3 separate regions of the Homo sapiens genome follow, and all the other regions are linked to region 1. The links come from fine-mapping of genetic effects on gene expression. A gene starts in region 1. Each other region holds a variant in brackets. All regions are shown on one strand. Distances are from middle to middle.

Evidence for each region. PIP is the estimated chance that this variant, and not a neighbour inherited with it, causes the effect. A credible set is the group of variants that fine-mapping cannot tell apart.
Region 2: its variant is the best candidate, but not a certain one, in a credible set for the expression of TRPM3 in subcutaneous fat (GTEx, PIP 0.52).
Region 3: its variant is the best candidate, but not a certain one, in a credible set for the expression of TRPM3 in cerebral cortex (GTEx, PIP 0.54).

Annotation. Positions count from the first base shown.
Region 1 is chr9:71,120,034-71,122,797 of GRCh38, reverse strand. TRPM3 (transient receptor potential cation channel subfamily M member 3) reads left to right here and starts at 1,177. Exons shown (of 26, transcript NM_001366145.2): 1 at 1,177-1,620. The coding sequence starts at 1,444. RefSeq lists an enhancer at 1,532-2,369.
Region 2 is chr9:70,896,964-70,899,727 of GRCh38, reverse strand. The region is part of intron 1 of TRPM3 (transient receptor potential cation channel subfamily M member 3); the gene reads left to right. Among named protein-coding and RNA genes, the nearest start is that of MIR204, 88 kb to the right of the region's middle. The variant A/C (reference allele first, on the strand shown) is at 1,296.
Region 3 is chr9:71,071,367-71,074,130 of GRCh38, reverse strand. All of the region lies in intron 1 of TRPM3 (transient receptor potential cation channel subfamily M member 3), which reads left to right. Among named protein-coding and RNA genes, the nearest start is that of TRPM3, 49 kb to the left of the region's middle. The variant C/T (reference allele first, on the strand shown) is at 1,069.

The sequences.
Region 1 (2,764 bases):
CCACCCGTGGACTAGTTTTCTGCAATATCTTTCTTAAATTTTTGACACAAGACCATTGTGAGTGAAATGGTGTTGTAGCGCAGTGTGTCAGGTATTGATTTCATGCTGGGGTGGGCCTGTGTTGTCCCGGTTCTGAATTACAGCAGTGTATCACATCTGCTTGCACCACTCCCAGTTCAGCTCTGACTGCATAATAGTCATGGAGCTGGGATTTACCAATCTCTTCAAGTTAATTAGAAATGGAAAATCAGCATGGTCACAGAGGAAAAAATAAATAAGATGGCGATGCTCCAAGGATGTGGGGATTCTCCCCATAGGAGTTGTCAGGTCAACTGCTCCCACTGAGGTCCGATGCCTGGGGGTACATGGGAGCCGAAGGGGGGTTGTGTCAGGAACTCCCTTCTCATCTCACCGTCCCAACTTACTATGTGAAATTATCCAATTTCTACCTTCAAATTGAAAAACTGTCCTTTAATTCTCTCTCTCACCACAGGAGTCCTAAAGACTATACATTCCAACTCAGCAACTATTTCATACAGCCTCCTTAGAAAATGATGGGGGTGGACACCCCACTTGAGGAAAATCCATTCTTTATAGACAGCATCCCATGTGGCACTTTATGGGTTAAACTTGTGTTGCAGAGAAGCGGTATCAAGTGGCTTTCCAGGAGATAACCCCCATTTAAAAACTGCCATCTCTAAAAGGTGAGCCAAATGCCCATGAGTTTAAACTGCTTTGTATGAAAGGAACAACCCAGTGTGTTTGAGTTTGCTTCTGTCTCAGTGTCTGTCATCTATGCAACCGATTATCAGGATGAAGACTGTCAATCACGGTTAATAAAAACCTCAGAACACGACACAGATCTCTTTTACTATAGATGTATTTGATGATAGCCTCACTTTATTATGTCACATAAATCAAAAGGGAAGCATTTATCTCATCATTCGGAGGCACCCCTTCTCTCCCTGTGTCCTCACCCCTCCCCCCGTACCAGTTCTCAGTCCCTCAAAGATGCTTTGTGCAAGAAAGTGCAAGTTTCCCGTTCTGGCTTCATTTTTGTTCCCTTTTGCGATCCTCCTGGCTCCCCCCCAAACCAAGCTAGCAAAGCAATGGCCCCGGTTCCCCCCCAACGCCTGACCTGCGTTTACTGGGAGGAGAGCGGGAGAGGGAGCGCGCATTCTGGAGCAGGCTGCTTTGACTCCGACCACAGGCTGTTTTGTGCAGGCTGTCCCTCTTCTTCAAAATCGTGCATCCCCTCCCCGAAGCAGCAGGCAGTGTGCCTCCATTCAGCCACATTTGGTATGCATGAGCACGGCTGCAGAGAGAGGGGAGGTGGCTGTTTTAAGAAGGTTCAGGGGCTCAGGCAAGGCTACTTGACTAGTCTTCCAAGTTCCAGGAAGCCTCTGCCCTAATGGAATTTGCAGGTGTGGAGATGACCATGGGATGCCAGAGCCGTGGGGGACCGTTTATTTTCTAGGCATTGCTCAGGTTTTCAGTTTCTTGTTTTCCTGGTGGAATTTGGAAGGGGTCATGAATCAGGCTGATGCTCCTCGACCCCTAAACTGGACCATCCGGAAGCTGTGCCACGCAGCCTTTCTTCCATCTGTCAGACTTCTGAAGGTACTGTAACTTGCAGCTTTGAATGGCGCTAATTGTGCTTTTTAGATTTAAATACCCAACTTGGGGACTTGGGCTGGGACGCACCTTTGGGGGAGCCTAAATGCATGCAGTACTGGCTCTGTGGTCCGTGGCTGGAGAGAGGTTCTCAGTACTCCTGCCCTCCCCCCACGCCCCCCACCCACACCCCGTGGTGTCAGAGACAAGAGGCTGGTGCGAACCACACTCGAGAAGGAGATTTTGGTCTCAGAGAATGGGCTACCTGGTGCTCCCCCACCCCTTTTAACCATTCCTAAAACAGAATTAATTAACTTCTTTGGGAGGGTGGGAATAGTAGTGGGAGTGAAATCTCTTACTCCCTTGTGTTTGGCTCCTGGGCTTTTCTTTCTCTCTCCCTGGGGAAGCCCTTCGACCCACTTTCCCTTTAAATGGAACCAGAGAGAACAAAGGATTCTCCTCATTAGTTTAAAAGCTTTGTGTAGTTAGGTGGCCAGTCAGGTGAAGATGAACAAAGAATGAGCCTCCTCAGACAGTGACTTTTTTTGTGTCCTTGTTTTTAGAAAAGGCATAAAAATGTGAGTCTCCTGAGTGGAATCAGTAGTGGGAAAGTATTGTTAAACATATATTGAATGTCAGCTCTCTCTCTAGCTGTGAGTCACACAAAAGAATGGCACTACACCTGAGCAGGAATTGCCACCGTGTGTCTGCAGCGCTTCTCTTTCCAGAAGCAAATGCATTAAAGATACTGAAAAAGTCCATACAACTCTGTACTAATCCACCTTCATGATCTTTCTTGTAGGGGGGAAAACACAAATTAGATTTAAAGGTGCAGGAAACAAGCATTTTTGCCCAGTAAATAGAAGGTGGTAATACTTAATAGGGAAAAATAAATATCTCTGATGTTCTATATCCATTCGAAGTTAAAAAAGGCAAAGTTCTTAATTCTCTTTTCCTGAGTATGTATGCTCTTTTGATTTAGTGACCACAGAGCATTGAGTCCAGTGGGCTACAATGGAGAATTAATGAATTAGCCCTGAATACGTTACACTTGGAGAATTTTGTTCTGAGGATGTGTTCTGGTTAGGTAAGATTTGATGGGGACAGTTAGTTCCATACAGCTAAGTGGTGCCTCACAACAGAGTATTAC
Region 2 (2,764 bases), 220 kb after region 1:
AATGCCTTAAGATAGAATCCTTACTATGATCTAAGCATCTGTGGGATGCATTGGGGCACAAATGAGTGAATGGTCAGTTCTCCCTGAGGCGTAGGTTAGGAATAGTTTCATCAATTAAAAGTTTTGCAAGACAGCAGATTCATAAGGGGTCAAGGGAAGGAACAAAAAGAGCAATTTAGGCAAAGGAAGCAGCACAAGAAAAAACAACACAAACCGTTATGACACAACGTTTGGAGACTTGCAAGTGGTCCTGTAGCTCAAGTGTAAGATGTGAAGGAAGGACGTAATGAGAGATGAGTAAGGAAAAGAGATAGAAAAGGGTTCAGAATGCCATAAGAAGTTTGTTCACAAACTCTTAGGCAATGGGGAGCAGCTGAACGATATGATCAGGTTTTCCAGAAAGACCTTGTTTTAATAAAATAAACAGTAACAGTAAGATCACTTCCAGGAATAACAAGTCATCTTTTAAGGCTACAACAAAGCTGTGGTGACAAGTGTACAATCAGTGAGTGTAGTTTATAACTGTATTACTCTATAAACTGAAATCTCTCTTTCCCTCTAAATTTCGGTTTACCCTATTGGTTTTCCATTTTGGTTCCAAAGATATCTCCCAGGCTTTCATGTCCTCCTTCTTTCTCTAGGAACATAAATTTCAGATTCTCCAAACACTTTATGCAGGCACTGGCCTTGGCTTCAGTTCCTTTCACTCATTGTCTCCTATGGATAGTGTATGATTTCTGTTGTCCAAGCTTCATATTGGTAACAAACTTACCAATTAAGCAAAGGTTTCCCAAAAAGGTTGCATTTGAACCACCCTCATTCCCAGAAAGGGTTCAGGTTCAAAAGACTAGTTCAGCCCACGTTTTATCAGCAGCAGCTGCTATCTTCAGGCTGCTTTTAAATTTGCAGAAGTAGAACGAAACCAGTAAATTTTTTCTTTCTTTTCTTTTCTTTTCTTTTCTTTTTTTTTTTTTTTTTTTGAGATGAAGTCTCACTCTTTTGCCCAAACTGGAGTGCAATGGCACGATCTCAGCTCAGTGCAACCTCTACCTCCCGGGTTCAAGAGATTCTCCTGCCTCAGCCTCGGGAGTAACTGGGACTACAGGCACGCACAAACATGCCTGGCTAATTTTTGTATTTTTAGTAGAGACGGGGTTTCATTATGTTGGCCAGGTTGGTCTTGAACTCCTGGCCTCGTGATCCGCCCGCCTTGGCCTCCCAAAGTGCTGGGATTACAGGCATGAGCCACCGTGCCCGGCCGGAAACCAATAAATTTTTCAAAAACATTTACTTTT[A/C]AATTTATTGTGGCCGGGCGCGGTGGCTCACGCCTGTAATCTCAGCACTTTGGGAGGCTGAGGTGGGTGGATCACGAGGTCAGGAGATCGAGACCATCCTGGCTAACACGGTGAAACCCCATCTCTACTAAAAATACAAAAAATTAGCCGGGCGTAGTGGCGGGCGCCTGTAGTCCCAGCTACTCAGGAGGCTGAGGCAGGAGAATGGCGTGAACCCGGGAGGCGGAGCTTGCAGTGAGCCGAGATCGCGCCACTGCACTCCAGCCTGGGCGACAGAGCCAGACTCCGTCCCCCAGCCACCAAAAAAAAAAAACAATTTATTGTGAGTGAGCTGCTTAGTGAGAATGTAGGTGCCTGCAAAACCAACATAAAGACCGTCCTAATGAGTCATTTATTGTATCACTGGTCGGGGATGTTATTCAAGCAAGAGGATCTGCAGAGCTAGGCAAGCTCCAGAAATTGGAGTTAATGCTTTAGTTGGTCTTGAGCTGTTAATTATCTGTTGTTTAATAACAACTCCCTACACAACGTGAGCCTTGCTATAATTTACCAGTCTGACCCTTCTTGAACTTCACCACAAATGCTATTAATGGCCAATGCGCTATTACAACAATAAAGAGAATTTCTTCTATTAGGTTGGTGCAAAAGTAATTATTTTTGCACCAACTAATAGGTTATCAGCATAATTTAGAAGCCATTGTTTCTTTAATCTTTCAAGCCTTTAGCATACTCTGAGTGTTCCCTCCACTAGATGCCATCAGTTTCTTCTCCCAGTTGGAGAGAGTTACTATAGACTTTATGAGTTTTCTAGAAATTTGCCTCTGAGAAAACAATTTTCTCTTCAAAACTCAGCCTAGACCTTGCGGGCTGTTACAACTGTTTGATGTAATAAAAGAACCTCCAAACAGAATTGTTGGGAAATTGAAAATTGAGATCTAATTCCACCGCTGATATTCGCTACCCTTATACATCTCAGTTTTCACAGTTACCGAAAAGTATGATCATATGAGTAAGAATGTACAATATTGCTCTTTCTGTGCTTGGCTTATTTCACTTAAAGTCCTCCAGTTCCACTCATGTTGCTGCAAATGACAGGATCTCATTCTTTTTTACGGCTGAATAATAAAAAATTGATCTCATGGAGACAGTGAGTAAAATAGTGGTTACCAGAGGCTGGGAAGGGGAGCACGGAGGGAGAGATAGAGGTTGGTTAATTGGTACAAAAATACAGTTAGATAGAAGGAATAAGTTCTAGTCTTCTGTAGCAGAGTGGGGCAACTACAGTTAACAAGAATTTATTGTATATTTCAAAATAGCTAAAAGAAAAAATCTGGAATGTTCTCAACACAAAGAAATGATAAATGTTTGAGGTGATGAATATCCCAATTATTCTCATTTGATCATTGCACAGTATATACATGTATCAAAATATCACATGTGCCCCATAAATATGTATAACTCTTATGTGT
Region 3 (2,764 bases), 49 kb after region 1:
ATTGCGGGCTGGTGAATTATATTGTTAACAATAATCATGGTTCCGCTAGCCTCTTTTAGTCAGAGAAAAATGCGTGTTGTAACTCTTGAAGTTACTTATTATGACTGAAAAGCTCCAATTTAATAGAATCAAAAGATGTATTCTTTATACAGAAAAAAATCCAGCAATGAAAGTTGAAATTTGAATAATTTTATATGATAGAAGTATATCCTTTTCCTTAGATTAGTGCTTTTCCAGCTTTTTAAATAACTACCCAGGGAAATAAAAGTAAGATAATCATAAATGCCTTTGTACCACTGTAAAATTCAGCATTCTTTTCTTGACATTATCTCAGCAATATTTTTCTGTTTTTTTTAATTAAATAATTAATTTGTGCATCATGGCGTTCCTGTCATATATAAGCTGCCAGCTTGAAAAGCAAAGCTCTGTGCTTTAATATTACGCAATGCAAGAAATAACATTTTCTAAATAAATTGGGTTTTTTTTTTATTGATAATCTATGGAATGGAACAGGGAGGAATATTGTAGCTTGCTTTTCTTACTCAAGAAAATATCAATGGGCATTTTGGAACATCAGCAGTAGCTGAAGCTCCATCTCTGGCCAGCAAAATTAAAGTAATTAGATAGTTGTCAGGAACTAATCACTGATGAGACTTCTACACTTTCTCAAGCTCAGAACTGGAAAATTAAATAAAGGGCTAAGAAGGATACAATATGTTTTTCTTTGAGACTACTGGTCTTCCTTTTACTATGTAGTTTGAACCGTCACATGTCCTACTTTCCTTTTGGCCTTGATAGCCAAGAAGTTCAAAAGTAAGACTTTGGCTCAAATTTAGGGTCTTGCATTAAGCCTGTTTTTCCAAGTCTCACCTCTCCTCCTCCCGTTCATTCTCATCTTTATGACTTGATTTCTGCTTTTATAGTCTTCTGTTCGAAGTTTTAGTATTATTTTTGTTTTCATGCACTATGTCTGACTGCCACAATTACTACTTGAGACCATCACTACGACAGTTACTACTGTTACTACTTGAGACTGTCGTTATGAGACTGAACAAAGGGGAATGAACA[C/T]AGAAATGAAAACTTAAGACAAAGGAAACTGTTTTAAAGGAAGGGGCCGGGGAAGATGGCTCCCTGCTTCTAGTGAGCAAAGGCAGCCACCTCGAGCTTCTTCAGCCCTTCTTTTTTACTGGGTAGAAAGAGTAGGGAGGAGGAGGTAATGACTGGTCAGCTGCTTAATTGATCACAAGTTCACATTATTGCTAACAGGCTTCAGATGTGTCTAATCACAAGAAACACTTGTGCCTTGGTTGTGACTGCCCTCAGCATTCCTTGTGGGCAGCAGATGCAGTTTGTCAGTTTTCCAACATCCTGCTTTCGTGAGAGCAGTTTGCTGTTTACTCACATAGCCTCCAGTGGTATACTGAGTTGATTACGACCCTCACTCTTTCGGCCTTCAACAATGCATGATATTGTGCCTTATTTTAGGCACTATTACTGCACAAGCTCTGGAGTCAGACGGGTTGGGTCCAGCTCTTGATTCTGCAACCCAAGAACTGTGTGATATTGGACCCACAACTGAATCCATCTATCCTGCATTTTCCTGTCTATGGAATGGGGCAGTAATGGTACCTGCCTCTTGGGTTATTGGGAGGATTAAGTGAGTTAATATTGTATTTACTAGGTGATTTAAATGGGAGATCTGGCACATGGTAAGTGCTTAATAAGTGTTAACTATCGAAGAGATGAATGGAAAGACATGCTCACAGGGAAATATAAATAGGCAAATCTAAGACAAAATGCTTTGTAGAAATAATGATAGGTTTAACTATCTTAACTTAAAAAAATTAATTCATGACCACCCTAAAAGCAAACTGTGGCCTTGATGCTGACCAACTGTAATGACAAATAGAGAAATCTCAAAAATGTAGAATTTGCCATCAATGAAGGTGTTCCATAAACTCCTGGAAACTAGATCTGAAATGTTTGGGCTTTCCTATATAAAGAAATCAGATGGACATATGTTTTATGACTTTGGTTTCAATTAGCTCCTCTCTGAAAATATCTCTTACAGGTCTGGGCCTATGAGTTCTACCACCCAATACCTAATCAAGAGACCCAGTACCAAAAACATCTGAATCCCATTTCCTACTTGTTCCTCTTACCCATTTCTTTTTTACTTTCCTGGCACTAAGAGGACTTCTGTGATGTCTCCTTGAAGGAGTAAAGGAGAGAGAGAAAGACCTGAAGTGTATTGATTCCCTCTATGTGAACCACATCCTGTTCTAGAGGCTCCACCTGCATCCTCATGTCACAGGCGGTTATTAGTATCTCCACTTACATTGCAGGTTCAGGAGTGTTAAATGAATCTCTCAGCACCCTATATTTACTAAGTGGCAGAGTTGGATTCAAACCCAGCTCTGTTTGGCACTAAAGTCAATTCTCTTTCTGTTCCATATCTCTAATCACTCTACTACCAAGTCAGTGGACAAAGATTGCTAGAATGCACTAATTTGGTCTTGCATAATTAGGAATCTTTAGCAAAGGATGTGGGATGTGGATTACAATTCCCTGTTGTAAATTTCTTGATTTTCTGGGCAGTTTAATATTATTCATTTCATTGTCAAGATTGTAGTCTCATGTAGATAGCCTTCTAACAATCTCTCATCATTTGCTATTTATGGCCCCAGGCATTCTTAATTACCCACAGCTAAGCTCATTTCCTAAACACTATCTTATATGAAGCCATTTTTATTAGTTAAGGTGC